4 linked regions of the Homo sapiens genome follow. The protein of the gene in region 4 interacts with the protein of the main gene of each other region in a biochemical or structural test. Each region holds a gene or a part of one and is shown on either strand. Other genes may lie near its edges.

Region 1 (8,373 bases), on a different chromosome or scaffold from region 4:
TCTTCTCTGTTAACACTAACCACTGTGGCCCCGTCCCCCATGTTTCACTTTCCCCTTGGAATTCTACAAGAATGGCTACTCCAACCAGGCTCTACCTCAAGATCCCTGTACCCCTCTAACACTTGAGGCCCAGCTGGGGAGAAGAGGTGGGACCTAAGGATATTTTCTTTTTTCCCCTCAGAACACATCAAAGAAATCTTATTAAACAAAACAAAAAAATGAATCTAGATAAAATGTTTAAAGAGTTCTAACACTACCAAATCTAGTATATCCTTCAGGGCTTGTAGGTTCTGATGCCAAGAAAAGACAGGAATTTGCCAGAGTTCCCTACTTCCTAGCCTTTGGCCTGCTTCCATTTGACAAGTCACATATCATCATCAATTCATGAGTGCCTTCCTAAGACATCTTGACCCATCCTTTTCTCAGCCCCTGAGAAAAGGATTCCTTCCTCATATGACTGTCAGAAAGACTGCTCACCCTCCTGCAAGACTCTTCACCTACCAAAAGAGATTAATCTTTAAAGGCCTTTAATCATAAAATGACCATATCATACATTAGCAAAAGGTGGTTACTTCCTGTTGGGAAAGTGCTATCAGAGAAGGGGGGGAGGAGGCTGGGCACAGTGGCTCACGCCTGTAATCTCAACACTTTGGGAGGCCGAGGCGGGCAGATCACTTGAGGGCAGGAGTTCAAGACCAGCCTGGCCAACATGGTGAAACCTCCATCTCTATTAAAAATACAAAAAATTAGCCAGGTGTGGTGGTGCGCACCTGTAGTCCTAGCTACTCGGGAGGCTGAGGCAGGAAAATCACTTGAACCCGGGAGGCGGGGTTGCAGTAAGCCAAGATCAGGCCACTTCATTCCAGCCTGAGAGACAGATTCGTCTCAAAAAAAAAAAAAAAGAAAAAGAAAAAAGAAAAGGTGGGAAGGAGAGGATAGTGTCAACACCTTTACAGAGAAAGCTCCTATCTGAAGGTCCTTGTCTTTTCTTCAGGGACTATGACTATTTTAAATAAAAGAGGATTAAAGCTTCTTGTATATTTGTAGCACTATACTTATCGTACTAAATTACAGGTCTTATGTCTCTCTGTTTCCTCCATTAGATTGAGAGTTCCTTGAAGGCAGGAACTCACAGTCTATTTACTCATTTTGTGTCCATAGATTAACACAATGCTTGACACACAGTAATTATTCAATGTATGCCTGCTGAATGAAGAGTGAACAAAGGAATGACCAAAAAAAAAAAAGGGTAACAAAAATCTGACTGAATCAAAGAGAACAAGTGAAAAAGACAATGACAATGTAAAGTAACATTTCCTGTAGACATCTCAAGTCAAATAATGACTTGCTTTGTGTATGCGTGTGTGTCTGTGGGCGTATATACACACATATATATACATATATATATATATGTATACATATATATATATATTTTTTTTCGAGACGGAGTCTTGCTCTGTCGCCAGGCTGGAGGGCAGTGGCGAGATATTGGCTCACTGCAACCTCCGCCTCCCGGGTTCAAGTGATTCTCCTGCCTCAGCCTCCCCAGTAGCAGGGACTACAGGCACGCGCCACCATGCCTGGCTAATTTTTTGTATTTTGGTAGAAACGGGGTTTCACCATGTTGGTCAGGCTGGTCTCAAACTCCCGACCTCCAGTGATTTACCCGCCTCGGCCTCCCAAAGTGCTGGGATTACAGGCGTGAGCCGCTGCGCCTGACCCTTGCTTTGTATTAACGATTTGAAATGAAAAGTTTTAAGATATTAAAAACGTAATATATAATTTTTCTTCTATGATATACGTGCAAGTCCAATTTGAGCTCTTTAGTATTTCATTCTACTTTTTCTAATTCCATTCTCTTGTCCAGAAGTTACAGGAGGGCCTCAAATTCATTCTTTCACCCTTAAAATGCCTTTGGGGTTCTGAATTCAGTCATGCTTAAGCTAATATGTAACTACTTGAAGCTCTGGCTTATGGCACTGGCCATAAAATAATCTAGACACAGTTTTTTTGTTTGTTTGTTTTTTTAATCTCAACAGCAGTGCCTCCTTTACAACTGTAGGACTAAACTGTGATCCACTAAACCAATGCTGGGGCCTCGGGAGCCAGGCAGGGAAAGGTTTAGAACAGAACAGACAGAGCAACTCTGCCTACTTGTACCAGAGAATTTTTCCATCAGAAAACAATGAACTTTCAAGAAAAATTTATATTGAAGAAAAGAATTCACGGTTTTTAAGTTTTAAAATCATTTGTCTAATTCTATTTTGCGCCTTCTGTTTTATTTCATTAGAACAGAATCAAAGTGTTCATAATAGCAATTTTTTAAAAGTACAGGTTGCACAAAGGTTGTATGATTCAAACAAAAGAATACTGCAATGAGGCGTTCCAAAAGGAAACAGTGAGCCTTAAGAGTGATGTTTCCCAGATTTACGCCAGTCACCTGTATTCATCCACCAAAAAAAAAGTTTAATGAAGTAAGGAACATACATATTTGAACTATTTACATATATTATTTGACTCAAACATGTTTTTTAAAATGGCTTAGGGGATTACACAACGTATCAGAATAGGGCACTTTCTACAGTCTCCTAATAACCAAATGTTAACTATGAAACAGGGGAATTACTGCTGAGATGTGCAGTATTCTTCTGAGTCTCCCCGCCCCAACCCCATTTCCAAGTTCTAAAAATTTACCTAGGGTTCTGTTAACTACTGCTACAAAAACAAACAAAAAACAAACCTGTAGTCCCAGCTACTCGGGAAGGGGAAACGGAGGTGGAGGCTGAGGTGGGAGGAATTCTAGTCGCACCTGGGCAACATAGTGAGACCCAGACTTTCGAGAATACATACATATATTTCTCAGTTTGTTTTAGTGTTACTCAAATTTCCTAAATAATTTCGTATATATCTTATCCATGTTTTTCTCATTCTATAGTCACTGAGAGACCAGCGCTTTATGACTGCAACATGTAAAATACTTGTTGTTCTGGAGTGTTTTGAGACTGGAGATTTCCTTTTCATACTCTAAAACCGAACATCTCCTAGCACCCGCGCAATCTTTGCAATCCGGGGATGAAGAGCAACACCTTTACAATTGTAATAAATCTTAAAGCTACCCTATCAGGGATTGAATGCATGAGTAATATAAATAATGGGGAAGTAAGTTCTTCCTATTCAATGCGGTTGTCTAGGTGTCAAGTGTCTAGTGTTGGGCTTCTCTAGACAGCAGGGTCTCCACTGCTGCATCATCTTCAGAAAACGATGGGGCAAAGACGGAGGTAACCAGCTGTCGAACGAGCAGGAAGTTTTTAATCACCAACTCCACAACTACTTAATCAGTCCAGTCTCCAGCGAGCCCTAGGCTCTTCCCAAATCCTACGCTTGGCAAGGAGAACGGCCCTTTGAGGGTCCCCAAACTCAGGCGGCAGGAAGCACTCCCCAGACCGCTAGCGACGCGCCGAGGTTGCCCCAGAAAAATCCCAACGTCGAAGGAGCGGGCGGCACCGCCCCTCCCCTCCCTTCGCTTTGCTTCCTAGTCCCCGGAGTCGCTACCGCCCACTTTCTAGCCGGACAAACAGCAGTCCAGGGCCAGGCACACAGCAGTCCAGGACCGGGCACAGCACTCACCCACGTCTTGCTCGAAGGGGTTGGCGGTGAACAAAGGCATCTCGCCGGCGCCCGAGCCCTAGTCGCTGCTGTCTAGCTGACACTCAGCAACTGCTACCCGCCGGGTGACCCGCGGCCGCGGCTCCCTAGACCGCTCCGCTTCGGCCTCCGTCCCTGCACTTCCGCCACCGCACCTGCCCGGCTCTTGCCTGACAGGCCGGCTCGGAGTCCACCCTTCGATCCCGCGCTCCTGTCCCAACTTTTCTCCCGGGGCGAGATCCCTCCGACCATGGGCGTCCTCCCAAGGCCTTTGTCGCTGCCCCTGTCCCAGACTTTTGTAGGGGTCAGGCGGCCGCTACGGCCACCTTTCCAGCGCTAGGACCCCGGCTAGCCACGAAGCCGGGGACCTTCGGAGCCGGAAGTAGTCCCGCCTGGAACTGGACGACCCCGGAAGCTGCAGTGCCAGCGGCGGCGCGGCAGGGGGCGCGGTTACCCGTGGTTTTTCGCGTTGGACGACGGGCTCTGAGGGCCAAGTTCTTGTCACGAATTTAGTTTGTTTCAGAGCGGCAGGACTCGTAGCTAGAGAACGAGGACCCACGACGCGTACGCGTTACAGTCCTGTTTCCCTAGAAACGGAGCTGCCGGCGCGGAGGTGGCTTTGAGATTCTGCGAAAGACCTGACTGCTCTTCAACAATTATTGTGTTGCACCCTCCCAGGCGCCCAGTCCAAACCCCGTCAGAATAACCACCCGGGACAGCGGTGGTCGAAGTAACTACGCCTAACTTTTCGCTTTCCATCGTGTCCCCTCCATAAAAACACTGCTGGGCCCCCGGAATCCAAAGGCGAAGGAGGCACACTCCCTGCCTTAGACTTGTTGAGAGTTTTATAGGGGCAGTGCATAACGTACATGATGGTGTATGACGATTCGGATGGTAGTACGAGTCATAAACTCAAATTCCAACAGCATCCAGCCAGGTATTTAAATGAATGCAAAAGCCCAAGCACCCTTCCCACCCACATATTCTCTGTTCCTCTTAGAAAACTGTAGTAATGATTATGTTGCCTGTCTCTCCTCCTCATTAGATTATAAACTCCCTGATAAGTTTTGGTCACTACTATATCCCCAGCGTCTAAAACAGTGTCCCAAGTAATAGACGCTCAATGCTTTTCGAATGAAGCTGTAACTTTCTAACTGAACAGTGCGTATCTAAAGATGTCAACTACTGGTAAATTGCAGCCATTTATTGAAATGTGGGTCCTACTAGAGTTTGCAATTTTTCAATGATGTTTAAATGTTGAGAATTACTCCAACATTTTAAATAATAGATTAATCAAAACCATTTTACAAACTCTAGTATAAAGACCTGATGCTATAGAGAGCTCATACACATTCAGAAAGGTGGTTGCATTTTATAAAGTTCGGGGCACAAATGAGAAGGAATCGTGCAGAAGGGGCTGTTTTTCATAGAACGTTGAACCTAGGGATGTTCAAGATAAATTGGGAGGCCGGGCATGGTGGCTCACGCATGTAATCCCAGCACTTTGGGAGGCCAAGGCGGGCAGACTGCTTGAGGCCAGGAGTTCAAGACCAGACTGGCTAACATGGCGAAAAACCGTCTCTACTAAAAATACAAAAATTAGCCAGGCATGGTGGCGCAAGCCTGTAATGCCAACTTCTTGGGAGGCTGAGGCACGAGAATCACTTGAGCCCAGGAGGCAGAGGTTACAGTGAGCCAAGATCAGGCAACTGCACTCCAGCCTGGGCAACAGAGCAAGACTCTGTCTCGAAAAAAGAAAAAAAAAAAAGACTTAGAGATTTTTTGGACAGATAAAGACTTTTTGTCTAAGACTTAGTGTTGGAATGGAAAACAAGGCTGACTAGGTATAAGAGGAAACAGATTGACAAGAATTTTAAAGGGCAAGCTGGGAATTTTTTATTTTGATTAAGGCACTCAATAATTATTTAAGGATATTGGGTAGCAGAATAGTAAAAAAAAATTTTTTTTGAGATGGAGTCTCACTCTGTTACCCAGACTGGAGTGCAGTGGCGCGATTTGGGCTCACTGCAAGCTCCGCCTCCTGGGTTCACACCATTCTCCTGCCTCAGGAGAATGGCCAAAACTGGCCATAGACAAAATCTCTGCAGCACTGTGACATGTTCGTGATGGCCATAATGCCCACGCTGGAAGGTTGTGGGTTTACTGGAATGAGGGCAAGGAACCCCTGGCCCTTCCAGGGTGGAAAACCACTTAAAGGCCTTCTTATGCCACAAACAATAGCATGAGTGATCTGTGCCTTAAGGACATGCTCCTGCTGCAGTTAACTAGCCCAACCTATTCCTTTAATTCGGCGCATCCCTTCGTTTCCCTTAAGGGATACTTTTAGTTAATTTAATATCTGTAGAAACAATGCTAATGACTGGCTTGCTGTTAATAAATACGTGGGTAAATCTCTCTTCGGGGCTCTCAGCTCTGAAGGCTGTGAGACCCCTGATTTCCCACTTCACACCTCTATATTTCTATGTGTGTGTCTTTAATTCCTCTAGCGCCGCTAGGTTAGGCTCTCCCCGACCGAGCTGGTCTCGGCAGCCCTTGTTGAAGGAATACTTATGGCAATGGTGATCACCGCTATGGTAGCTACCATTAAATTACTCGTTGTGATTGGTTGTCCCGCTTTCCTCAGGTTTTCTTCTGCCATCTGTGACAGCTTCTTGGTCTGTCCCCAGGTGGGTGGCTGTGTTTGATGGGTATAGCTCACGACAGTTGGGGTCCTTCTCAGTGTCAGTCTCAACATGGCTGCAACCGGGGGGGGGGGTCCTTGGGATCCTCCCAGAATCTCTTCCTTGGCATCTGGCTAATGATAAGGTTTCAGGTGTCTTGATGGTATCCAAATCGGCTGTTGATTTTGGCCTGGAGAAATACAGCATAACCTCTACCCCAAGTTATTATTTTACCTATTTCCCAACTTTTTGTTACCGGATCTCTCCACCAAATCAGTTGTTCTGCTTCTGTCTTTGCATCTGGTTTCTGTAGATGCTGTTCAGCTGCTGATAACATCTGGCCTTCTTTGGGCAGGCTCAAAACATTTAAAGTTAATAATGCTAGATTCAATTGTGTATGGGCTGTCCCATAATCCCTATTTCTCCCCCTTTTTTGTTTTTGTCATTAGTTGTTTATCTGTATGAAATAGTAACAGCATTTTTAATTAATTGTGTGGAATGAACCACGTATGAAGCAGCAGAAATGACATTAATAGGCATATTAAAAGCAGTCCATACCTCAATTACAGCTACAAGCTCCGCTTTTTAAGCTGAAGTATAGGGCGTCTGGAAAACTTTACCTTTTGATCCAGAATAAGAAGCTTTGCCATTACTAGACCCATCTGTGAAACAAGGAAAACACTTAGCAGGCTGCAGGTTGTTTACTGCAGGAATTGTAAATGCAAACTGTTCACAGTCTTGCTCAGCTAAAGGGATAGTAAAGAAATAGTCTTTTAAATCTATGACTATTAGAGGCCAATTTTTTGGAATTATAGCAGGAGAAGGCAATCCTGGCTGTAATGCTCCCTTAGGTTGTATAACTGAATTGATGGCCCTTAAGTCAGTTAACATTCTCCATTTACCTGATTTTTTCTTAATTACAAAAACTGGAGAATTCCAAGGGGAAAATGTTAGAGCTATGTGCCCATTTTCTAATTGTGTAGTAACTAATTTCTCTAAAGCCTCCAGTTTCTCTTTACTTAGCGGCCATTGTTCTATCCAAATTGGCTTATCTGTTAACCATTTTAAAGGTATAGGTTCTGGAGGCTTAACAATGGCCATCAAAAATGATATCCTAATCTTTGGCAGGAATTTTGTCTTTCTGCTTGAAGCAGTTCTTGCAAACCTTGCAAATTTTTTTTTTCTAGTCCCATACCAGGGACATACCCCATTTCATGCATTGTATGTTGACTTCGAGGGCTATATAATTGTTCTGGAATTAGAACTTGTGCTCCCCATTGTTGTAACAAATCTCTTCCCCATAAATTTATAGGTGCAGAAGTTATAATTGGTTGAATAGTCCCAGGTTGTCCATCAGGCCCTTCACAATGCAAAATATAACTACTTTGATATACTTCAGGGGCTTTACCAACTCCAACTATGTTAAATTGAGCGGGTTGAATTGGCCACACAGACGGCCACTGCTGTAGAGAAATGATTGAAATGTCCGCTTCTGTATCTACCAAACCTTTAAATTTCTTTCCCTGAATAGTTATTTCACAGGTAGGACATTTATCAGTAATTTGATTTACCCAATAAGCTGCTTTGCCTTGTTTATTTGTGCTTCCAAATCCTCCTGTTCGTTTAATTTCACTTTTTCCCATTCCCACATACGGCACGATCAGGAGCTGTGCTATGCACTCTCCTGGCTCTGCTTTCCAGGGAACAGAAGTAAATATAACAATTTGAATTTCCCCATTGTAATCTGAATCAGTGACTCCTGTATGTATTTGTACCCCTTTTAAACTTAAATTAGACCTTCCTAAAAGTAATCCTATTGTCCCCATTGGCAAAGATCCACAGACTCCTGTTGGAACCTTTTGCAGGGATTCCCCAGGCAGAAGGCTCACAGCTTTTGTGCAGCATAAGTCTACCGTGGCACTACCAGCTGTGGCAGGGGACAGACATTGTACAGGGGTGAGGGAATGGCCTGAGCCATTCTGGAATCCCCTATATGGCAGCCTGACTCGCTGATTATTTCTATATCCTTTTTTAGTATTAATAGCTT
Region 2 (8,408 bases), on a different chromosome or scaffold from region 4:
ACCTTCACCTCCCGGGTTCAAGTGATTCTTCCACCTCAACCTCCTCAGTAGCTATGCCCGGATAATTTTTTTATTTTTGTAGAGACAGGGTTTCACCATGTTGGCCAGGCTGGTCTTGAACTCCCGACCTCAGGTGATCCACCCGCCTCGACCTCCCAAGGTGCTGGGATTACAGGCGTGAGCCACCCCGCCCGGCCTTTCTTCCCCACTTTCTTGTACTATTTCATATACGGGACAGTAAGAGCTGTTTGAGAAATGCTAAGAAATAATGGACTTGCTTAATATGGTTTCAAAGGAGGTAAAAACGATTCGAATAGACTACTGGCTTGTTAAAGTGATGAGATGCTAGATTTAATCTTCAACTCCCAGCCCCAAACTTAAATATTTCCTGTGACCCAAAATTGTCATTTTCCTGAACACAGGTTAGCTCTTCCTCCCGTACTGTTAAATAATCCATATAAATTGATTCCAACGCCCCAGGATAGAATTAAATGAGGATACAAAGAAGTTTAGGCACTAATTCAACACAGCAAGCAAAATAAAATAAGCCTGCTGCAGTAACAGAGAGATAAAAGGGCAGCTGGAAACCCAGCATTTGGGTACAAGTACCCAACAAAGAAATCCTGCCAATACACTGTCTTACCTTCTTCCACCCCCGACACCTGCTAAGTTCTGTTTGGTGACCAGAACTCCGGGAAAACTTTGCCACCAGAAACAAAAAAATACCGCACTCAATAAAGGAATGGACACAGGTAGAGGACACAGGTAGAAATTCCTGGTTTCTGTCTCCTCCTCCTCCTCTCCTTTCCACTGAGTCCCTACCTTATGCCCCAAGTCACAGCAATAGCTCCTCACCTTGTAGATCCTATTTCCTTACCCCTTTAGATCCTGAAGGGGACACCTAACATTAACAACTGTAATAATGTGGCTGTATCAGAGTCCCATGTTCAATAACCAATAAGGGCTCTGGTCAGAAATCCTCACCACTCACATCAAAAATATAATTATCACTAACCTGTACTTTATTTGGAAACTACAATCACAAGCTTTCAAATCAGTTTTTTAAAGGAGCTTTCAAAAAGAAAAAGACCTTTCCTCACATCCTTTCTAGTTATCACAGCAAGTTTACTTAAAAAGCCCCAATACCCACAAAATAGAAAGCATTCAAGTACAATTTGTTTCCTCCCAAGAACACTAACAGATTAAGAGGGGAACATCTGGAGATGAGGGGGCGGAGGAGGAGACTTCCAATACAAGCACATTCATATCTCTTTGATTTTTAAACACTGAAATAAAGACAAAGCAGACCTTGAGCTGTACTTCCCCATCTTATCCCCCCCCCCAACAGGAACCTTGTTGAATACAAATAGCAATTTAAGAATTTACAAGACGAAATTTAGTTCACTATATTTCCTAAATATGAGTTCTAGAGGCCTTGTCTTATTTTCAAATCCCTGAATCTTATTTCTGATGATAAGGGGGACTAACCCTGAGGTTATTCACATGACTAAATCCGCATTTCGAGGAAAGCAAGGGCCCTAACATTTTGAAATATAGGTATTTTAATTAGGAAAAAAATCTAAGAATCAAAGATACTTGATTCCAACCATGTCTCACCCCACCCTACCACGCAAAAGCATTAAAACCACAGGACCCACAGACATGACCTTTCGTTTAATACTACAGTATCGCACAATTATAAATGTGTGGGTATTTCAAAAGGTGGTCCAAAAGGTGGACTGGGAGAGAGGATTAAGAATAAACTTCCTGACAATGACTGGACAGACACAATGGACATTCGATGAAGTTCTGAAAAAGGACTGGAGAACCCATTAGGGGCAAAAGAACAACGAACAAAGAGGACCTACTAATATTTCTACATAAACCCATTTATTTAAAACGGAAAAAAAGAAAGCAACAGGATCTTCAACCTTCATAACTCAAAAAACCCAGCCTCAGCCGAGCGCCTGGAATAGGTTAAGATCCCCCACGAAGTACAGACCAGCATTCCGAGCCTGCAGAGTCAACCAAAATACAGTTACTGAACACTATTGGAAATAACTTTATTTCAACAGGTCTTCCCATTTGTCATCACGGTGCGCACAAACTGTAAAGTCATCGTTTTTACAAACGGGGGGACGGAGGCTCGGGCTCTACAAAGGCTCGAACTCTCAGAGTCGTGGCCTCCTGGTTCTATCCATCAGAACCCACGGGTGATGGAGCCAGAGAAAGGTTACAGGAACTTCGAGATCTCCTGTTTTAAGTCTGAGGAAAGGGAGGGAGTGAGGATTTTCTGGGCCTCCCCAGAAGACGACGAGGAGGAAAAGCCCCGAAACCCCTCACTACGAGGTGCCGGCCTACGGGAAAGAAACCCGATCGCAGCATGGGAGCCTGCCACCGCCCGAAGACGAACTGCAGTGATTCCCACTCACCCCTCTCCCCCCACCATCATCCACGACTGTCCCCCACCTCAGGCCTGAGGAAGCCCATCGCTCTCAAAGGTCCTCCTTTGTGAGACTCCACGGCCGCCGCCCCACACGGGGCCTCCGGGGAAAAGCCACCGCCCCCACCCGCCATATTTCCCTGAAAGGCGCCCGCGCTACAGCTCCCGGTCTTCGCTCTCTCCCATGTGGCGGGTGCTGCTTCCCCCGTCACCCCACCCAATTGTTCTCCACATCCCAAGGCCGTCCCAGAAGCTCCCATGAGGGTGGCTCGTTCGGAGACAGCACCCGCCATCTCCTCCCCCTCCCCCGCCCCGGGACTCGCCCTCCCCCCAGCCGCCATTTTACAACCAACTCCTCCACCCCGTCGCCCCGGCCTCCCGGCCCGCGAGTTGTTTGCAGTTAAGGACGGCGAAGGGGTCACATTCCAGGGCATAGAGCCTCCCATCGCCCCGGGAGCTCCCAGGCCATTTCCTGCTTCCCGAACCCAAGCCCCCGGGCCAGGCTCGCAGACGATGCCGCCATTTTGTCTCCTGTTCCCGGCCTCTGTGGGCGGCGGCAGAGGGTCCGAGAATTCCAGCCCCCCGTTGCCCCCCCAACTCACCGTCGTATCGCTCAGCCTGCTCGGCCAGCTTCGCCTGGTACACCAGATCCTCTCGATCATCCATAGCGGCAGCGGCTCCGGCAGGGTCTGCGCGACGGATGGAAGCGGATAGTGTCTCCGACTCTCTCAGCCTCTCGCTCCGCGTCCGGGCAGCAAAAATGGCGGCGCCTCAATCCGGGACTTCCGCCTGCGCACGCGGACAACTGCTCAGCTCTATGGCAACCGCTCCCTGGCAACTGGCGCGGGGGGCGGGTCCTGGAACTCGGCGCCCGAAGCGGCTGGAACGAGCGCACGAGACGCCTCTCCTCTGTCGGCTCAGCGGGCGCCGGAGCCCAGAGGCGGGAACTGCGACTGCCGAAAGGGAGCGGCCCCCGGGGAACGAGAAGGGCTGAGGCGGGGCCGGCCGGGACTGCTCCTGAAAAAAGCCAGCGAGAGACCTGGGTCAGACCGGGGCCCGAGGCCCGACCTGCGGAAAAGAACGACGGAGGCTGTAACGGTTTCTGTCATGGCAGGTCTTCTTTCCCGAAATCTGAGGCTGTCACTACCGCGCCCTGGTTTTCTTTTCTTTTTTCTTTTTTCTTTTTTCTTTTTGAGACGGAGTTTCCCTCTTGTTCCCCAGGCTGGAGTGCAGTGGTGCGATCTCGGGTTACCACAACGTCCGCCTTCCCGGGTTCAAGTGATTCTGCTGCCTCAGCCTCTCGAGTAGCTGGGATTTCAGGCCCCCGCCACCACCCCCAGCTTTTGTATTTTTAATAGAGATGGGGTTTCACCATGTTGGCCAGGCTGGTCTCGAACTCCCGACCTCAGATGATCCGCCCCCCCTCGGCCTCCCAAAGCGCTGGGATTCCAGGGGTGAGCCACCGCGCCCAGCCCACGTCCTAGTTTTCTCGGCCAAGCCTGGTCATGGGCCTTTTTCAGACACTTTTAGACTCAGGGTAACGAACCGGGCCCTGGCCGGGCGCGGCGGCTCATGCCTGTCATCCCAGCACTTTGGGAGGCCAAGGCGGGAGGATCACAAGGTCAGGAGTTCGAGACCAGCCTGGCCAATATAGTGAAACCCCGTCTCTACTAAAAATACAAAAAATTAGCTTGGCATGGTGGTGCATGCCTGTCATCCCAGCTACTCAGGAGGCTGAGGCAGGAGAATCTCTTGAACCCGGGAGGCGGAGGTTACAGTGAGCCGAGATCCTCCCATTGCACTCCAGCCCAGGCGACAGTGTGAGACTGTGTTTCAAAAGAAAAATTATATATATATACAAAAATTAGCTGGGCGTGGTGGTGCATGCCTGTAATCCCAGCTACTCCAGAGGCTGAGGCAGGAGAATCGCTTGAACCCGGGAGTGGGAGGGTGCAGTGAACCGAGAGCACACCATTGCACTCCAGCCTGGGCAACAAGAGCACAACTCTGTCTCAAAACAAAGAAAAAGAAAAAAAACGAACTGGGCCCTGTTACAGTTGTCAGGGACAGGGGAGCTCCAGTTTTCACGCCTCAACTTTCCCCTCACACTGATCTTTGTCTTCTCCTGTTTAACCTTTTTCCCTCCCTAGGCCCACTATGAATAGGAGCAGGGAATTTGTTAGATGAGGGTGGTGTGGAGTACATGGTACAGAAGAGTTGGACCAAGATCAAATAAAGATTGTGGAGGCAGGAATAACTCAGTGAACATTGCTTCAGCTTCTGGCGCTTGGGAGGCCCATGCGGAAGGATGACTTGAGCCCAGCCTGGGCAACATAGCGAGACTCCATGTCTATAAAAACGTTTTTTTTTTTTTTTATTTGAGTCGGCATCTCGCTCTGTTGCCCAGGCTGGAGTGCAGTGTCGTGATCTCGGCTCACTGCAACCTCCACCTCCCGGGTTGAAGCAATTCTCCTGCTTCAGCCTCCCAAGTAGCTGAGACTACGGGCACATGCCACCACACCCGGCCAATTTTTTGTATTTTTAATAGAGACGGGGTTTCACCATGTTAGCCAGGGTGGCCTCGATCTCCTGACCTCGTGATCTGCCCACCTCGGCCTCCCAAAGTGCTGGGATGACAGGCCTGAGCCATATCTTAGCAGTTTCAGAGGCTGAAGCAGGAGGATCTCCTGAGTCCAGGAGGTTGAGGCTGCAGTGAACTGTGATTGCACCAGTGGACTCCAGCCTGGGTAACAGAGCGAGACCCTGTCTCAAAAAATAAAGTGGGGAGAGGGAGGGATCTTGCCACGTTGCACAGACTGGCCTTAAACTGAGTTCAAGCAATCCCACCTTGGCCTCCCAAGTAGTTGGGAAACTACAGGCTTGCACCAACGCACCCAATCTTGCATCCTATTTTGTGGCCAAGGGAGCTGTATGATTTTGCGTGGAGGATGATGTCATCATAGTTATATTTCAGAAATATTAACAAATATTCCATAGCAATGATTAAAGAGGAGGATAACCAAACGTAATACGTGGGAGCAATGAAAATAGAAAGGAAAGGATAAATAGGAATAGCACTATAGAGGGAAGCCACAAGCAGCTGATCAGATTGCAGCTCTTTTTTTTTTTTTTACCATTACATATATAACATTTTATTATAATTTAAGGTATAGTCGATAATATAATGTTTTTTTTGTGTTTTTTTTGTTTTTTTTTTTAAATTGATCATTCTTGGGTGTTTCTCGCAGAGGGGGATTTGGCAGGGTCATAGGACAATAGTGGAGGGAAGGTCAGCAGATAAACATGTGAACAAGGGTCTCTGGTTTTCCTAGGCAGAGGACCCTGAGGCCTTCCGCAGTGTTTGTGTCCCTGGGTACTTGAGATTAGGGAGTGGTGATGACTCTTAACGAGCATGCTGCCTTCAAGCATCTGTTTAACAAAGCACATCTTGCACCGCCCTTAATCCATTTAACCCTGAGTGGACACAGCACATGTTTCAGAGAGCACAGGGTTGGGGGTAAGGTCACAGATCAACAGGATCCCAAGGCAGAAGAAGTTTTCTTAGTACAGAACAAAATGAGAAGTCTCCCATGTCTACCTCTTTCTACACAGACACGGCAAGCATCCAACCTCTCAATCTTTTCCCCACCTTTCCCCCCTTTCTATTCCACAAAACCGCCATTGTCATCATGGCCCGTTCTCAATGAGCTGCTGGGCACACCTCCCAGACGGGGTGGCGGCCGGGCAGAGGGGCTCCTCACTTCCCAGTAGGGGCGGCCGGGCAGATGCGCCCCTCACCTCCCGGACGGGGCGGCTGGCCGGGCGGGGGGCTGACCCCCCCACCTCCCTCCCGGACGGGGTGGCTGCCGGGCGGAGACGCTCCTCACTTCCCAGATGGGGTGGCTGCCGGGCGGAGGGGCTCCTCACTTCTCTGACGGGGCGGCTGCCGGGTGGAGGGGCTCCTCACTTCTCAGACGGGGCGGCCGGGCAGAGACGCTCCTCACCTCCCAGACGATGGGCGGCCGGGCAGAGACGCTCCTCACTTCCTAGATGGGATGGCGGCCGGGCAGAGACGCTCCTCATTTTCCAGACTGGGCAGCCAGGCAGAGGGGCTCCTCACATCCCAGACGATGGGCGGCCAGGCAGAGACGCTCCTCACTTCCCAGACAGGGTGGCAGCCGGGCAGAGGCTGCAATCTCGGCACTTTGAGGGGCCAAGGCAGGCGGCTGGGAGGTGGAGGTTGTAGCGAGCCGAGATCACGCCACTGCACTCCAGCCTGGGCACCACTGAGCACTGAGTGAACCAGACTCCGTCTGCAATCCCGGCACCTCGGGAGGCCGAGGCTGGCAGATCACTCGCGGTTAGGAGCTGGAGACCAGCCCGGCCAACACAGCGAAACCCCGTCTCCACCAAAAAAATACGAAAACCAGTCAGGCATGGCAGCGCGCGCCTGCAATCGCAGGCACTCGGCAGGCTGAGGCAGGAGAATCAGGCAGGGAGGTTGCAGTGAGCCGAGATGGCAGCAGTACAGTCCAGCTTCGGCTCGGCATCAGAGGGAGACCGTGGAAAGAGAGGGAGAGGGAGACTGTGGGGAGAGGGAGAGGGAGAGGGAGAGGGCTTTTTTTTTTTTTTTAATTTTGAGACAGTCTCGCTCTGTCGCCCAGGCTGGAGTGCAATGTCACAATCTCGGCTCACCACAACTTCTGTCTCCCAGGTTCGAGCGATTCTCCTGTCTCAGCCCCCCAAGTAGCTGGGATTACAGGTGTGCCCCACCATGCCCAGCTAATTTTTGTATTTTTAGTAGAGACAGGGTTTCACCGTATTAGCCAGGCTGGTCTTGAACTCCGACCTCAGGTGATCCTCCCACCTCAGCCTCCCAAAGTGCTGGGATTACCAGCGTGAGCCACCGCACCTGGCCCAGATTGAAGATCTTATAATAAAAATTGACTTTCCATCTTTCCACCCTGAGAATATTAACAAAAAATGGGAATGCTAGGAACACTTGCTGATGGAATGCAGAGAAAGACAAAGTTCTTTTAGCACATGTTGGTTCAGAGGATCAGGGATCCGCAGGTACCCAAGGATCACCCAGGTAAAAATGACCACGAAGGAGTTGTAAAAGGGGACACGCATTCCAAATAGAAGGGAAGCTGTTGGCCGGGCACAGTGGCTCACGCCTGTAATCCCAGCACTTTGGGAGGCCAAGGCGGGCAGATAATGAGGTCAGGAGTTTGAGACCAGCCTGACCAAAATGGTGAAACCCTGTGTCTACCAAAAATACAAAAAGTAGCTGGGCATGGTGGCACGCGGCTGTAATCCCAGCTACTGAGGAGGCTGAGGCCGGAGAATCACTTGAACCTGGGAGGCGGAAGTTGTGGTGAGCTGAGATTGCGCCACTGCACCTCAGCCTGGGTGACAGAGTGAGACTCCATATCAAAAAAAAAAAAAAGAATAAAAGGAGGTGTCAGTCGTATTAAATTCTGCAGAGACATAAGTCAGATTAGCACTGAGGGAAAGCCATTGGATATAGCGATTAGGTCATTAGTGACCTTCAAAAGGAGTTTCGAAATGGTGTTGGAAGCCAGATTGCATTTGGTTGAAGCTCAGGGAAGTCGAGAAAGTGGAACTGGTAAGCATAGGGGTCTCCTGAGAGGAGCAGTGAAGACAGACAGGTAATTTGAGAGCAATGAGTGGCCAATAGGGGTGGCCAAATTAAGGATTTGGTCCACACATTCACAAACCTACCTACAAAGACAGCTCTGCTGCCGGGTTGATTACAGGGGCTGCCGTGGCTATGCAGCTGTCTGTGCTGGGGAAAGAAGCTATCGGCCGTCTCTTTCACAAAGAAGCTTCTGTACAGTGTCTCCCCAGACCCGCCGAAGTCTCTCCAAAAGTGCCTCTTCCTACGTAACTGCTGAGACGGCAGAAACCCTACACGTAGATTGCTGGTGTGACTGCACTGCCC
Region 3 (8,785 bases), on a different chromosome or scaffold from region 4:
TTTTAAAGAGCTAAGCAATGAGAATCTTACAACTAGAGCTGAAGTTCAAGAAATAAATGTCCAATGATTAAATTTTTTCCACTGCTGTTCACATCATGATTTGTTGTGATTAATGTATGTGGATGAGGACATAATAGAAAAAGAAAATGATGAGACTTGTATATATTGTGTTTCTGCACAATGAGTTCCTTTGAATGTTTTTCGTTTTAGGAATAAAATTGAAGGGTGTTTTTCTTAGAGAACATCATTTGTCATATTTATTTGATCAAGAAGTTGAAGATTTATATAATAAGGTATGGGACTTACACATTTATTTTGATAAAAGAACACAGAAAAGGTCAGGTATGAGCAGAAAATTGACATTTATTTCAGCCTAATGTGGATACTGTACTCTGAATTAAAAATTTCTTTTCCTTACTCTTCCAGCTTTTAAAGATAAGTATTATTTCAAAATAGTATTTTTTTAATTAATAGATTCAATTCAGGAAAGGCATTGGAGGGGGTGGAGCTTTTAACTTTGACAGTCTCACTCTGTTGCCCAGGCTGGAGTGCAGCGGCGCAATCTCTGCTCACTGCAATCTCTGCCTCCTGGGTTCAAATAGTTATTGTGGCCCAGCTTCCCAAGTGGCTGGGATTAGAGGCGCATGCCACCACACCCAGCTAATTTTTTTTATTAAGTAGAGACCATGTTTTGCCATGTTGGCCAGACTGGTCTCAAACTTCCAGCCACCAACCTCAGCCTCCCAAAGTGCTGGGATTATAGTCATAAGCCACCACACCTGGCTGTTGGTTATCTTTTCTTAGAAATAATGATATAATCTTTTCAGCACCTGATATTCTTAAAGATCCAGGGTTTACAAATGACTGTTAGATATGCCAAGGATGACTAGCCTATAACTTAAGGATCTGTTCAGGAACAGTAGAAAAGAAGGTGATAGGAAACTGGGAATCTTAAATCTAATACTAGTTCTGTCATGAATTAGGCTTGTTATTGTAGTTGTTTCTCAAATTTAAGAAAATATGAGGGGTCTTGAAAAAGTGCATGGAAAATGCATATCATGAAAAAACTATGCATGGATTTCAAAATTTTTGGACCAAAATAAACTCCTACTAACTTGTTATAACATGTCTGAACAGGATCTAGTTTGAAGCACTAAGAAGAATAAGACATCAGTTTGAAAAGAGGCTCTATCAGAACAACACGAATTCTGCTAAAATTGAAGCAAGAACAAACATCAAATATATGTTGACACTTGGGTGGAAGAATGGTGAACTAATTGATGCTTTATGAAAAGTTGATAGGGACAGTGCTCCAAAGAAATCAGTTTACAAATGGATAACTCGTTTTAAGAAGGCATAAGGTAATGTTGAAGAAGAAGCCCACAGTGGCAGATCATCCACATCAGTTTGTGAGAAAAAAGTTAGTTCATGGCGTAATTGAAGAAAACCAACAATTAACAGCAGAAACAACAGCCAACACCATAGACATCTCAGTTGGTTCACCTTACACAATTTTGACTGGAAAAGTTCAGCAAACTTTATACCTGATAGGTACCAAAACCATTGCACCCAGATCAGCTACAGACAAGAATAGAGCTTTCAATGGAAATTTTAAATAAGTGGGATCAGGATCTTGAAGCCTTTCATTGAAAAATTGTAACAGGAGATGAAACATGGCTTTACCAGCGCAATCCTGAAGACAAAACACAAAGCAGTGGTTACCAAGATAAGTAGTTCAGTTAAAGCACAAGAGGACTGGTTGAGAGCAAAGGTCATGGCAACAGCTTTTGAATGCTCAAGGCATTTTGCTTGTTGACTTTCTGTAGGGCCAAAGAATGGTAACGTGCTTATCATGGGAGTGTTTTGAGAAACTTAGCCAAAGCTTCAGCAGAAAAATCCCCGAGAAAGACCAGAGAGTTCTTCACCACAACAATGTTCCTGCTCATCCCTCTCATCAAACAAGGCCATTTTGCAAGAGTTTTGATGGGAAATCACTAGGCATCCACCCTACAGTCCTGGTTTGGCACCTTCTGACTTTTTGTTTCCTAATCTTAAAAAAATTTTTCAGGGCAGTACATTTTTCTCAAGTTAATGTATAAAGAAACTGCATTGATGTAGATAAATTCCCAGAACTCTCAGTTCTTTAGGGATGGACTAAATAGCTGGTATCATCACTTACAAAAGTGTCTTGAATGCTATAGAGCTAATGTTCAAAAATATAGTTTATATTTTTTATCTTTTAACCATTTTTCCACAAACTTTTTGAAGTCTCCTTGAATATGTACCATTTATAAAGGGGAAAAATTCTGTGACTACTCATGTTGACTTAATGCTGACTTAATTTTCTGTTTTGTAAATATATACAAACAAGTTGATACAAATTTTGTTTATAGCCCTTAAACAAATTTGTGAAATAAATGCATTCAGAAACAAACTAAAACAATGAAATGGATGCTACTGTTTTACTGAGGTGTAAGCATAGTACTGGCTGCTATGGAAAAAGTTACATAAACATTCATGTATCTTGTGATGATTGTTTTGTCTACAACTTCACTCTTTGCAGACATCAAGACTGTTGAAATGAGGGGAAGGGATCTGAATTCCCAAAAGAATGTCAAATGGGCATGGAGGCTCATGCCTATAATCCTTGCACTTTGGGTGGCTAAAGCAGAAGGATCCCTGGAGGCCAGGAGTTCCAGACCAGTATGGGCAACAAAATGAGTCCCTGTGTCTACAGAAAATAAAATAATTAACCAGGCATGGTGTTGTGTGCCTGTAGTCCTAGCTACTTGGGAGGCTGAGGTGGGAGGATCACTTGCGCCCTGGATGTTGAAGCTGCAGCGCGCTGTGATCATTGCCACCACACTCCAGCCTGGGCAACACAGCAAAAACCTGTCTCTAAAAAAACCTAGAATATCTTTGTGCTATGCAAATCCTAATTTGAAAAATTTGTCATTAAATTCTCTCCAAACATTCTTCTAGTGAGCAATTCAGTTTTTATTTGATTCAGGATTAGGCTTGGATAGTAGTTAACTAAATTGGATTTAGTTTTGTGAACTAAAGAGTTTTTCTTTTTTTAGATACAGGCAGTCTTTGCACAGTTCCAATATGCATAAATACCAGTGACCACAGTTAAATAAAACCAGTCCAACAATGTGGTTAATAATTCCATTACCACAGTACTGAGAAAACTTGCATAAATTTTGCTGCTAGCTCTTTAGTCCACAAATCATTGTGCCCCCCCCCCCAAAAAAAAGATGTGCATCATGATCAGTCGCCAGTTACATTACTTTGCTTTCAAAGTTTGTTGATTTGTTACTGATCATCTGTTTAGTTCATGCACAGATAGCAGAGCACAAAGTGCATAGTACTGTTGCCTCCTTGACCCCAGAGATTAAACTTGTGACCATTTATAAAAATGGATAATTAAAAGAGGTAATTGGTCAACAAAGGACAGAGCAGCAAAGAAAAGTGATAATGCTGGAAGTGAAATTGGATGTGATTAGATTTGAAAGTGGTGACAGCAAAGCAAAGATAGGTTGAGACCCAGACCTGCATGAAGCTGTAATACAAGCCTATTGAAAAAGTCTGATAAATGTAAAAAGGTAAAGTTGCTTCAACGTCTTTCAGTTTTAATTGCACTAGGAACAGAAAGCTGCTTGCGGTTGAAATGGAGCATTTACTTGTTTGAATTGAAGACTAATCAAAAACAAATCCCAATCAGTTTGACTAGCATTCAGGCCAAAGTGATAACCTTAGTTACTGCGTTGAAAGAAAATGGTAATTAGAAGACTGAAAGAGAATATATTACTACCAGTAAAAGTTGGGTTCATTATTTCAGAAGTTGGCGTGAATTGATGTTAAGCTGTCTTATGAAGCTGCAAGCTTCAGATGGAATGTTACAGAAGATGTAGCTGACTGTGGGAATGTTAACACTGCTGCTGTTCAAGGGGCAGGATCCTTCTGCTTTAGCTACCCAAAGTGCAAGAGTTGGCTTTGAATGCTAGATGTAATGAGAAAAGAACTTGTCTAGAAGTTAGGAGATCTGGGTTGAATCCAATTTCTGGTAATTTAGCAAGTGATTTTCCTTTGGCTTCACCTTGCTGTAAAATAATTCCTCCCTAAACTAAAAGTACACTTAGGCAACGCATCTAATTAGATTTGAGGTTGTGGAGAAACAGTGGCAGAAGGTGAGTGCTACCGGGTCTCAATACCATGGGATAGTAACAAGTATGAAACGGTACTAATTGGAATTAATATAACACCCCATCTATACCTCTTTGTCCACAATAGCCTTTGGGAATGCCCAGATTGTTTCACTTTGTATAAGTTCTCAAAACGCCAGAATGTGCAATCAAGTGGGTAATTTTAAGAACTCAGTCACAAATTACAATAAAGCCCTTGCAGCCCGATTTTCCACCTGGTTTGGCGCGGGCAGTGTCGCCAGGGGCTGCCGACGCCTCACAGGACTAGTGCTACGTGGCGTTCCTGCGGGCCACGGCGGTTATTCGGCCAGACGGGGACACCCTCTGCACTAGTCCTTTACCCACTAGTCCTGGCTACCCCATCCACATTCTGCGCGCCGCCCCTCAGAAAAGGGTTTCTACGATCGCCGGGGCGCGATGACCGCAGAGCGCCACCAACCAGCGGAGCCGTACCCCGCCTCCCAGGCTACCGCCGGTCCCGGAAGTGCCGTGGCGGGCTGTGCGTCGGGTGGGCGGGGAAAGATGTCGCTCCCGGAAGTGTTGGGCGCAGGGCGTGGCTGCGGCTGCGGCTGCCACGTTGGAACGGAACGTGGAGGTGGCCCTGGCCGGGGAGGAGGGGCGGCGGCGAATGCTGGGAGAGTCCGACGAGCGCTGCACTAACGCAGGATCCGGCTGCCGAAGGTCCTCGCCAGGTGCGTCCGCCCGTTGCTTTTTGTCCTCTTCGCCGGTCCTTAAGCTTTGAGGTAGAGCCCAGGCCAAAACTGGGACCGCAGCCTGGGTCTCCGCTGCCCCGCACCAGCCTGAGGCCCGGTCTCTGGTGACGGCGCGCCCCTAGTCTTGGTTTCGGGCCCGGCGGAACAACGCCTGGCATCTGGACTCCAGTGATCGCGCCCGTCCGCATTCGCCGACGTCTCCACTGCTGAGCAAAAGCCACCCGAGGCTGGCGACAGTGTCTTGCCGGGGAGTAGTAGCCGGGCTGGTAACTGGAGTTTGAGATTAGGAGACTTTCAGACCCTTGTGCACAAAGAGGTGCGGTCCCCGAGGGTGAGGAGAGGAAAAAAAATCTCAGGATTACTTTGGCTTTGGTTAGGATTTTTTTTTGTACTTGAACTATTGCCAGATTTAAAGGTTCATAGGTTTGAACTGACGTCTACTGTCATTTAACTAGGATTATTTTAAGGACGGTGGTAGCCAGGCGCAGCCTGTACTTTGAGGGCAGTCTCATTAAGTGTTACATGTTTTTGCTAATAAGTTGTTAAATTACGGGGCTGTTGTAAAATAAACCAAAATATTGCCTGGACTTGTGGGCATTATAAATTTTTTCTTGCGCTTAAGGAATTAATTTTACGTAGGGCTATTTGAAGTTGCAGTGATCTGATAGTCTGTGACAAATCCTTTCTCCTAACTTATTTTTTCTAACTATAGAAAACTGAAATTTGGTTGTCTTTGTGGGCAGTTATAACTGTATTTAATCGATAAGGGTGTGTTCTTGTTACAGCGTCCTGCGTTTTCTGTACCTCCGTTTATTCAAGAGTTGGCAAAAGCTTACTCTCCTTTTTTTTTTTTTTTTTTTTTTTTGAGACGGAGTCTCGCTCTGTCACCCAGGCTGGAGTGCAGTGGCGCGATCTCAGCTCACTGCAACCTCCGTCTCAGCCTCCTGAGTAGCTGGGATTACAGGCGCCCACCACCACACCTGTCTAATTTTTGTATTTTTAGTAGAGACGGGGTTTCACGCTGTTGGTCAGGCTGGTCTGGCACTCCTGACCTCAAGTGATCCGCCCGAGTTGGCCTCCCGAAGTGCTGGGGTTACAGGCATAAGCCACCACGCCCAGCCTACTCTCCTTTTTTAGTGGTTCTTCTGTGCTCCTTGTTTCTCACTATCCCTTAATTAACAGCTCAGGGAGAGGTTTGTAGACTCTTAAGAACTTTTGGATAACTCGTAGTGTTTTTGTAGTTTTGTAGTGATTTTATCTTAAATACGTCCGCGGTTATTTGTGAAATTTGAAATTTGAGGTGGATTTATAATGATATTGCTTAATTTTATATAAGCAAATTCTTTATTGAAACCAATAACATGGGAATAGAAATAAATTTGTAAACTGTGAAGAGCAATGATTCAAAATTTTGGGGGGATTTCACTGTCTTACGGGAATCTAATGAAAGCATTGGAAGAATGCACATATACACACATGTAGGATTTTCTTTTTTTTTCTTTTACTTTTTTTTTTTTTTTGAGACAGGGTCCCTCTTTGTTGCCCAGATTGGAGTGCAGTGGTGCAGTCATAGCTCACTATAACCTTGAACTTTTGGGCTCAAGAGATCCTCCCGCCTCAGCCTCAGAAGTAGCTAGGAATATGCACGTGGCGCACGCCCAACTAATCTTATTTTTTATAGAGATGGGGGTCTCACTGCGTTCCCCAGGCTGGACTCAAGCTCCTGCTTTCAAGTGACATGTAGGATTTTCTATATACATAATATTATGAAGTTTACAAGTTAAAAACTCCTGTAAGGGGATATTACTAGATTGATTTACATTGATTACATTGTTGTTAGGAATGTCATTAGGTTAATTTCAGCTCAAAAAGTTTTATTATACTGAAGATTAGTATGACACCAATTAGTTCAGTAACCAGTGCACAGTTGCTTTCTCCTTTGATTTGGTTTGGGTTGAGTGAAATGAACCTAGAACATTGAAAATACTAAATAAATCCTCTAAACAATTGTTTCTATCCATATTGAGATATTTTGCCTGCAGAAAATGGATTTTTACTGAAAGCAGTGCCAACTAGGGATTGTATACCTGGTTTGGGAATCCAAGTTCCAATTCTATTACCTCTTTAACTTTTTACTTGCTTTCTGAGTTATGGATCAGCTCTGTATATAGCATTGCAAGGTTGGTATTTTTCAAAGAACAGTGCTGGTGGGTTTTAGTATTGCTTCACAAAATTTACACTTTGAAAATGAGCAGAAATAAAAAAGTTTCCACCTAATTGAATGCAATTATTGAGAGAAAGTTGCATGAAAAATAAAGAGTTCTAGTCTAGAATATAAATTTTCCTCAAGAAATTTTTTTTTTTTTTTATTTTTTTCTGAGGCAGAGCCTCGCTCTGTCACCCAGGCTGGAGTACATTGGCGCGATCTCGGCTCACTGCAAACTCCGTCACCTGGGTTCAAGCGATTCTCCTCCCTCAGTCTCCCGAGTAGCGGGGACTACTGGCCGCGCCATCACGCGCAGCTAATTTTTGTATTTTTAGTAGAGACAGGGTTTCACCAGGTTGGCCAGGATGATCTGGATGTCTTGACCTCGTGATCCGCCCGCCTCGGCCTTCCAAAGTGCTGGGATTACAGGTGTGAGCCACTGCGCCTGGCCGTGTCTGTGTGTATATATATATATGTTTTTTGTGTGTTTTTTTTTTTTTTTTTTTTTTTGAGACGGAGTCTCGCTCTGTCTCCCAGGCTTACTGCAACCTCTGCCTCCCGGGTTCAAGCGATTCTTCTGCCTCGGCCTCCTGAGTAGCTGGGATTACAGGTACACACCACCACGCCCGGCTAGTTTTTGTATTTTTTAGTGGAGACGGGGTTTCGCCATGTTGGCCAGGCTGGTCCCGAACTTCCGGCCTCAAGTGATCTGCCCACCTCGGCCTCCCAAAGTGCTGGGATTACAGGCATGAGCCACTGCGCCTGGCTAATAGATGTTTTTTTTGTTGTTGTTTGTTTGTTTGTTTGTTTGTTTTGAGACAGAGTCTTGCTCTGTCACCCAGGCTGGAGTGCAGTCGCATGATCTCAGCTTACTGCAAGCTCTGCCTCCCGGGTTCACGCCATTCTCCTGCCTCAGCCTCCCGAGTAGCTGGGACTACAGGCGCCCGCCACTGCGCCCGGCTAATTTTTTGTATTTTTAGTAGAGACGGGGTTTCACCGTGGTCTCGATCTCCTGACCTCGTGATCCGCCCGCCTCGACCTCCCAAAGTGCTGGGATTACAGGCGTGAGCCACCGCGCCCGGCCTAATAGATGTATTTTTGAAGTTTCGTGGTGGTAGACGTTTTAAGTAGTGATGTTTGTAATAACTGTCATTTATGAGCATTTGTTTATATATGCCAGGCACTGTTCTAACCACTCTGAGTAATACCACTTATTTCTCACAACAACCCTGTAGTATAGATACTGTTCTCCTTATTTTAATGAGAGAGGAGCCAGGACATACATGGATAAAGCGACATGATTAAAGTCAGAGGTGGACATAGTGAAGCTGGAATTTAAACTGAGGGTGTCTGCCCTAGACCCCATGCTCTTAATTGCCGTGCTATAGATACTGTCTTGGAGATGGCATGTATGAACAAGCCCACACAATTTTCTTTTCCTTTCTTTTTTCTTTTCTTTTCTTTTCTTTTCTCAATGTTTTCTTAGAACATTGAGTACTAAGGCTAAGAAATAAACTTTAGTAAATGCTTTGAATTCACATTTAACTATTTTATGTTCTTATAAATGTGTCTCTTTCTTTTTCAGTCAATGTTACACATTAACCAAGCATTAATGAATTAGGTAGTCCTTGTACTTAGGTCTTAGAAATACTATAATTGTA
Region 4 (4,785 bases):
GGCGTGGTGGCACATGCCCATAATCTCAGCTACTTGGGAGGCTGAGGCAGGAGAATGGCGTGAACCCGGGAGGCAGAGGTTGCAGTGAGCCGAGATCGCGCCACTGCACTCCAGCCTGGGCGACAGAGCAAGACTCCGTCTCAAAAACAACAACAACAACAACAAAACACAAGCCTCATAAAGTGAGTTTGTCACTCTTTTCTCTGGCACAGATTGTATAAAATAAAAATCTGTTTCTTGAAAATCTGGTAGAATTGAACAGGAAAACCATCTGGTCTTGGAATTTCGTTTTTCTTGGTGGGTAGATTTTAAAATACTGACTCAGGCTGTTTTAGCTATTATAGGTCTAGTCAAGATTTCTATTTCTTCATGTTTTTTAAAAAATACTTTTTTTTTTTTTTTTTTTTAGACTGTGTCTCTCTCTTTTTCCCAGGCTGAAGTAGTGGTGCACAATCTCGGCTCATTGCAACCTCCACCACCTGAGCTCAAGTGATTCTCGCATCTCAGCCTCCTGAGTGGTTGGGACGACAGGCAAGTGCCATCATGCCCAGCTAATTTTTTAAAAAAATTTGTAGGCCAGGGGTGGTGGCTCACGCCTGTAATCCCAGCACTTTGGGAGGCTGAGGCAAGCAGATCACGAAGTCAGGAGATGGAGACCATCCTGGCCAACATGGTGAAACCCCATCTCTACTAAAAATAAAAAAAATTAGCTGGGTGTGGTGGCATGCGCCTGTAATCCCAGCTACTTGGGAGGCTGAGGAAGAATCACTTGAACCCAGGAGGCGGAGGTTGCAGTGAGCCGAGATCGCGCCGCTGCACTCCAGCCTGGTGACACAGCGAGACTCCCATCTCAAAAAGAAAAAAAATTGTAGAGAAGGGTTTCTCCATGTTCCTCAGGCTGCTGTGGAACTCCTGGGCTTAAGCAGTCGGGCTGCCTCGGCCTCTCAAAGTGCTGGGAATACAGGTATGAGACACTGCCCTTGACCAAAAATAAACTTTATTGAAGTGAAACATATATACAGAAAAGTACACAAACCATGAGGATAAAACTTGATGGATTTTCAAGTGAACATACCCATGTAACCAGCAGAACAGAGTTTAAACAGAATGTTACCAGCACCCTAACTGTGCTTGTACCTGCCTTCGAGTCTGGAAAACCACTGACTTCTGGCAGGACAGATTTATAGATTTTTGCCTGATTTTATGCTTCGTATAAATGGAATTGTACAGTATATCCTTTTTTTGTGTCTGGCTCCTTTCATTCAAAATTATGTAATGTTCATCCATATTGTTGTTTATATTGTAATTTATTCATTCTCATTGCTGTATAGTATTCCATTGTATGAAAATACTACAATTTAGTAATTCATTCTACCATTCAGGAACTTTTGGGTAATTACTAGCTTTTGACTAATGCAAAGAGGGTTGCTATAAACATTCTTGTTTTTTGGTGAACATAGTGTACACAGTTCTTTTGAGTACATACCTAGGAGTGAAACTCCTGGTTCAGAAATACGCATATGTCTGGCTTTAGTACATACTGCTCAGTAGCTTTCCAAAGCGACTGTACCAATTCATACCCCCACCAGCAATGACTGGAAGTTTCAGTTGCCTTAAATCCTTGTTAACACTTGGTAGTCTTTTGTTCGTTTTGTTTTGGCCCTTCTGGTTGCCCATATAGTAGAATGGCATTGTGGTTTAAATAACTACTTAAATTTGTATACTTTCTTTTGTGAAATGCCTAAACAAGTCTTTTATTCTTTTTCCTATTCTGTGGCCTGCCTTTTTCTTATGGAATTGTAGTTCTTTTTAAATCTTGAGTGTACATTTTTAAATTACCTTCTGTGGCTTGATTCTTCACTCTTTTTTTTTTTTTTTTTTTTAGACAGTTTCGCTCTTGTCTCGAACTCATGACCTCAGGTGATCCACCTCCCTCATCCTCCCAAAGTGCTGGGATTACAGGTGTGAGCTACCGCGCCAAGCATACTTTTTCATTAAATATTTTAAAGATATATCCATATTGTTGCATGTGGTTATAATTTCACTAGCCTATGATGTATATTGTGTGAATATATCATAAATTATCCATTTTCCTATTGATATTTCATTGTTTCCAAATTTTTGCTGGCATGAACAACATTATGCAGACATTCCTGCATATATATGTGCATAAGAGTTTCTCTCATGTATATACTTAGGAGTGAGGTCACTTAGATCATAAAGTATGTGCATATTTAACTTTCTACAAGTGATTATACCAATACATACCCCTACCAGGATCATCAGACTTCTTAATTTTTGCCATCTAATGGATACAAAATTATCTCATTTTAGTTTTTCCTATTGTATGAAATATTTGTCTTTTGCACATTTTTTACAAACTGGGTTATTTTTCTTCTTATTGATTGGAAAGAGTCATTTACATGTTCTAGATCCTTGTTATATGTTACATGGGTTAGAAATAACTTTTTTGTTTTTGGTTTGTTGTACATGATCTTTTTGTTTCCCAACTTAAATAAAAAGAAGTTCTTAGAGATAGTTCACATACCACAGAATTCACCTTAAATGTGTTCAGTTGTGTTTTTTGTTGTTTTTGTTTTGTTTGTTTTTGAGACAGAGTCTGGCTCTGTCGCCCAGGCTGGAGTGCGGTGGTGTGATCTCGGCTCACTGCAACCTCCACCCCCTGGTTTCAAATGATTCTCATGCCCCAGCCTCCCAAGTAGCTGGGATTACAGGTGCACCACCATGCCTGGCTAATTTTTAAAAATATTTTTAGTAGAGATGTGGTTTCACCATGTTGGCCAGACTGGTCTGGAACTCCTGACCTCAAGTGATCTGCCCATCTCAGGGCCTCCCAAAGTGCTGGGATTACAGGTGTGAGCCACTGTGCCTGGCCAGTTCAGTAGTTTTTAGTACATTCACAGAGTTGTGCAGTTATCACCACAGTCCAGTTTTAGAACATTTTCGTTATCCCCAAAAGAAACCCTGTAACCCGTTCCTTCTCCCCCAGTCCATAGCAACTACTAGTCTTCTCACGTGCACTCTCTCTCGATCTCTCGCTATTTTTTTTTTTTTTAACAGAGTCTTGCTCTGTTGCCCAGGCTGGAGTGCAGTGGCATGATTTCAGCTCACTGCAACTTCCGCCTCCCAGGTTCAAGGGATTCTCGTAACTCAGCCTCCCGAGTAGCTGGGACTACAGGTGTATTTTTGTATTTTTAGTAGAGGTGGGGTTTCACCATGTTGACCAGGCTGGTCTTGAACTCCTGACCTCAAGTGGCGCACCCACCTTGGCCTCCCAAAGTGCTCGGATTACAGGCATGAACCACTTCTCCTGGCCTCTACTTTATATATTTCTATAGATGTGCCTATTCTGCGTATTTTTAAAATTTTATTTATTTTATTTTTTGAGACAATATCTCACTCTTGCTCAGGCTGGAGTGCAATGGTGCAATCTCAGCTCACTGCAGCCTCAACCTCCCTGGCTCAAGTGATCTTCCCTCCTCCCTCCCTCGAGTAGCTGGGACCACAGGTGTGCACCACCATGCCCCAATAATTTTTGTGTATTTTGGTTGAGATGGGGTTTTGCTATATTGCCCAGGCTGGTCTCAAACTCCAGACGTCAAGTGATCCACCTGCCTCGGCTCCCCCAGGTGCTGGGATTACAGGCGTGAGCCACAGTGCCTGGCCTATTCTGGGTATTTTAATAAACAGAATCATAGAATATATGACCTTCTGTTTTTATTTTCTTTTATTCAGCATAATGTTTTCAAGTTTCATTCATGTCATAGCATGTATCTGTACTTCATTCCTTTTTATTGCCAAATAATATTCCATTGTATAGGATATACCACATTTCCTTAATCCATCCAGTGATGGACATTTGGCTTGTTTCCACTTTTGGCTGTCATCAGTAATGCTGCTATGAACATTTATGTACAGGATTTTCTGTAAACATGTTTTCATTTCTGTTGGGTATATACCTAAGTGTGAAATTTCTGGGTCATATGGTAACTCTGGTTAATTTTTTGAGGAACTGCCAAATTGTTTTCCAAAGTGGCAGCAGCATTTTACGTTCCCACCAGCAACTGGAACTAAGGTTCCAGTTTCCCCACATCCTCAACCGAACTTGTTACTGCCTCTCATTTTTTATTCTATCCCATACAAAGTAGGTATGAACTGGTATGTCATGGTTTTGAGTTGCATTTTCCTAATGACTAATGATGTTGAGCATCTTTTCAAGTGCTCTCTCTCCAGTTTTTAAAATAAAACTTTGCAAACATTCAGAAAATCTGAAAGAATTGTACAGAGAACATTGGTGTACATCGGCCGGGCACGGTGGCTGACGCCTGTAATCCCAGCACTTTGGGAGGCCAAGGCAGGCGGATCACGAGGTCAGGAGATCGAGACCATCCTGGCTAACACGGTGAAACCCCGTCTCTACTAAAAATACAAAAAAAATTAGCCGGGCATGGTGGCGGGCGCCTGTAGTCCCAGCTACTCAGGAGGCTGAGGCAGGAGAATGGCGTGAACCCAGGAGGCGGAGCTTGCAGTGAGCCGAGATAGCGCCACTGCACTCCAGCCTGGGAGACAGAGCGAGACTCCATCTCTAAAAAAAAAACCAAAAAACAAAACATTGGTGTACATTGGTGTACATTTCAGCTAGATTCAGTTATTAACATTTAGCAGTGTATACACTTTTATTACTTTCACTCTCTATACATATATATGTGCACATCTATACACACGTATATCTAACTTTTTGCTGATTTAAATCTTGTATCGTGA

The links.
Region 1: the proteins of USP8 (region 4) and STAM2 form a complex in vitro, tested with the Homo sapiens proteins (3 studies listed by BioGRID, with this or other methods).
Region 2: the proteins of USP8 (region 4) and YWHAE form a complex in vitro, tested with the Homo sapiens proteins (2 studies listed by BioGRID).
Region 3: the proteins of USP8 (region 4) and SEC31A form a complex in vitro, tested with the Homo sapiens proteins (one study listed by BioGRID).

What each region holds. Positions count from the first base shown.
Region 1 is NC_000002.12:152,171,976-152,180,348, forward strand, and holds the start of STAM2 (signal transducing adapter molecule 2), read right to left. Parts: upstream 3,789-8,373; 5' UTR 3,668-3,788; coding exon 3,628-3,667; exon of another isoform or gene 3,558-3,627; intron 1-3,557.
Region 2 is NC_000017.11:1,397,002-1,405,409, forward strand, and holds the start of YWHAE (14-3-3 protein epsilon), read right to left. Parts: upstream 3,222-8,408; 5' UTR 3,110-3,221; coding exon 3,046-3,109; intron 1-3,045. UniProt on the Homo sapiens protein: Adapter protein implicated in the regulation of a large spectrum of both general and specialized signaling pathways. Binds to a large number of partners, usually by recognition of a phosphoserine or phosphothreonine motif.
Region 3 is NC_000004.12:82,887,200-82,895,984, reverse strand, and holds the start of SEC31A (protein transport protein Sec31A), read left to right. Parts: upstream 1-4,831; 5' UTR 4,832-4,833; coding exon of another isoform or gene 4,834-4,897; intron 4,898-4,919; exon of another isoform or gene 4,920-5,290; intron 5,291-8,785. UniProt on the Homo sapiens protein: Component of the coat protein complex II (COPII) which promotes the formation of transport vesicles from the endoplasmic reticulum (ER).
Region 4 is NC_000015.10:50,510,617-50,515,401, reverse strand, and holds the end of USP8 (ubiquitin carboxyl-terminal hydrolase 8), read right to left. Parts: 3' UTR 981-4,785; downstream 1-980. UniProt on the Homo sapiens protein: Hydrolase that can remove conjugated ubiquitin from proteins and therefore plays an important regulatory role at the level of protein turnover by preventing degradation. Converts both 'Lys-48' an 'Lys-63'-linked ubiquitin chains.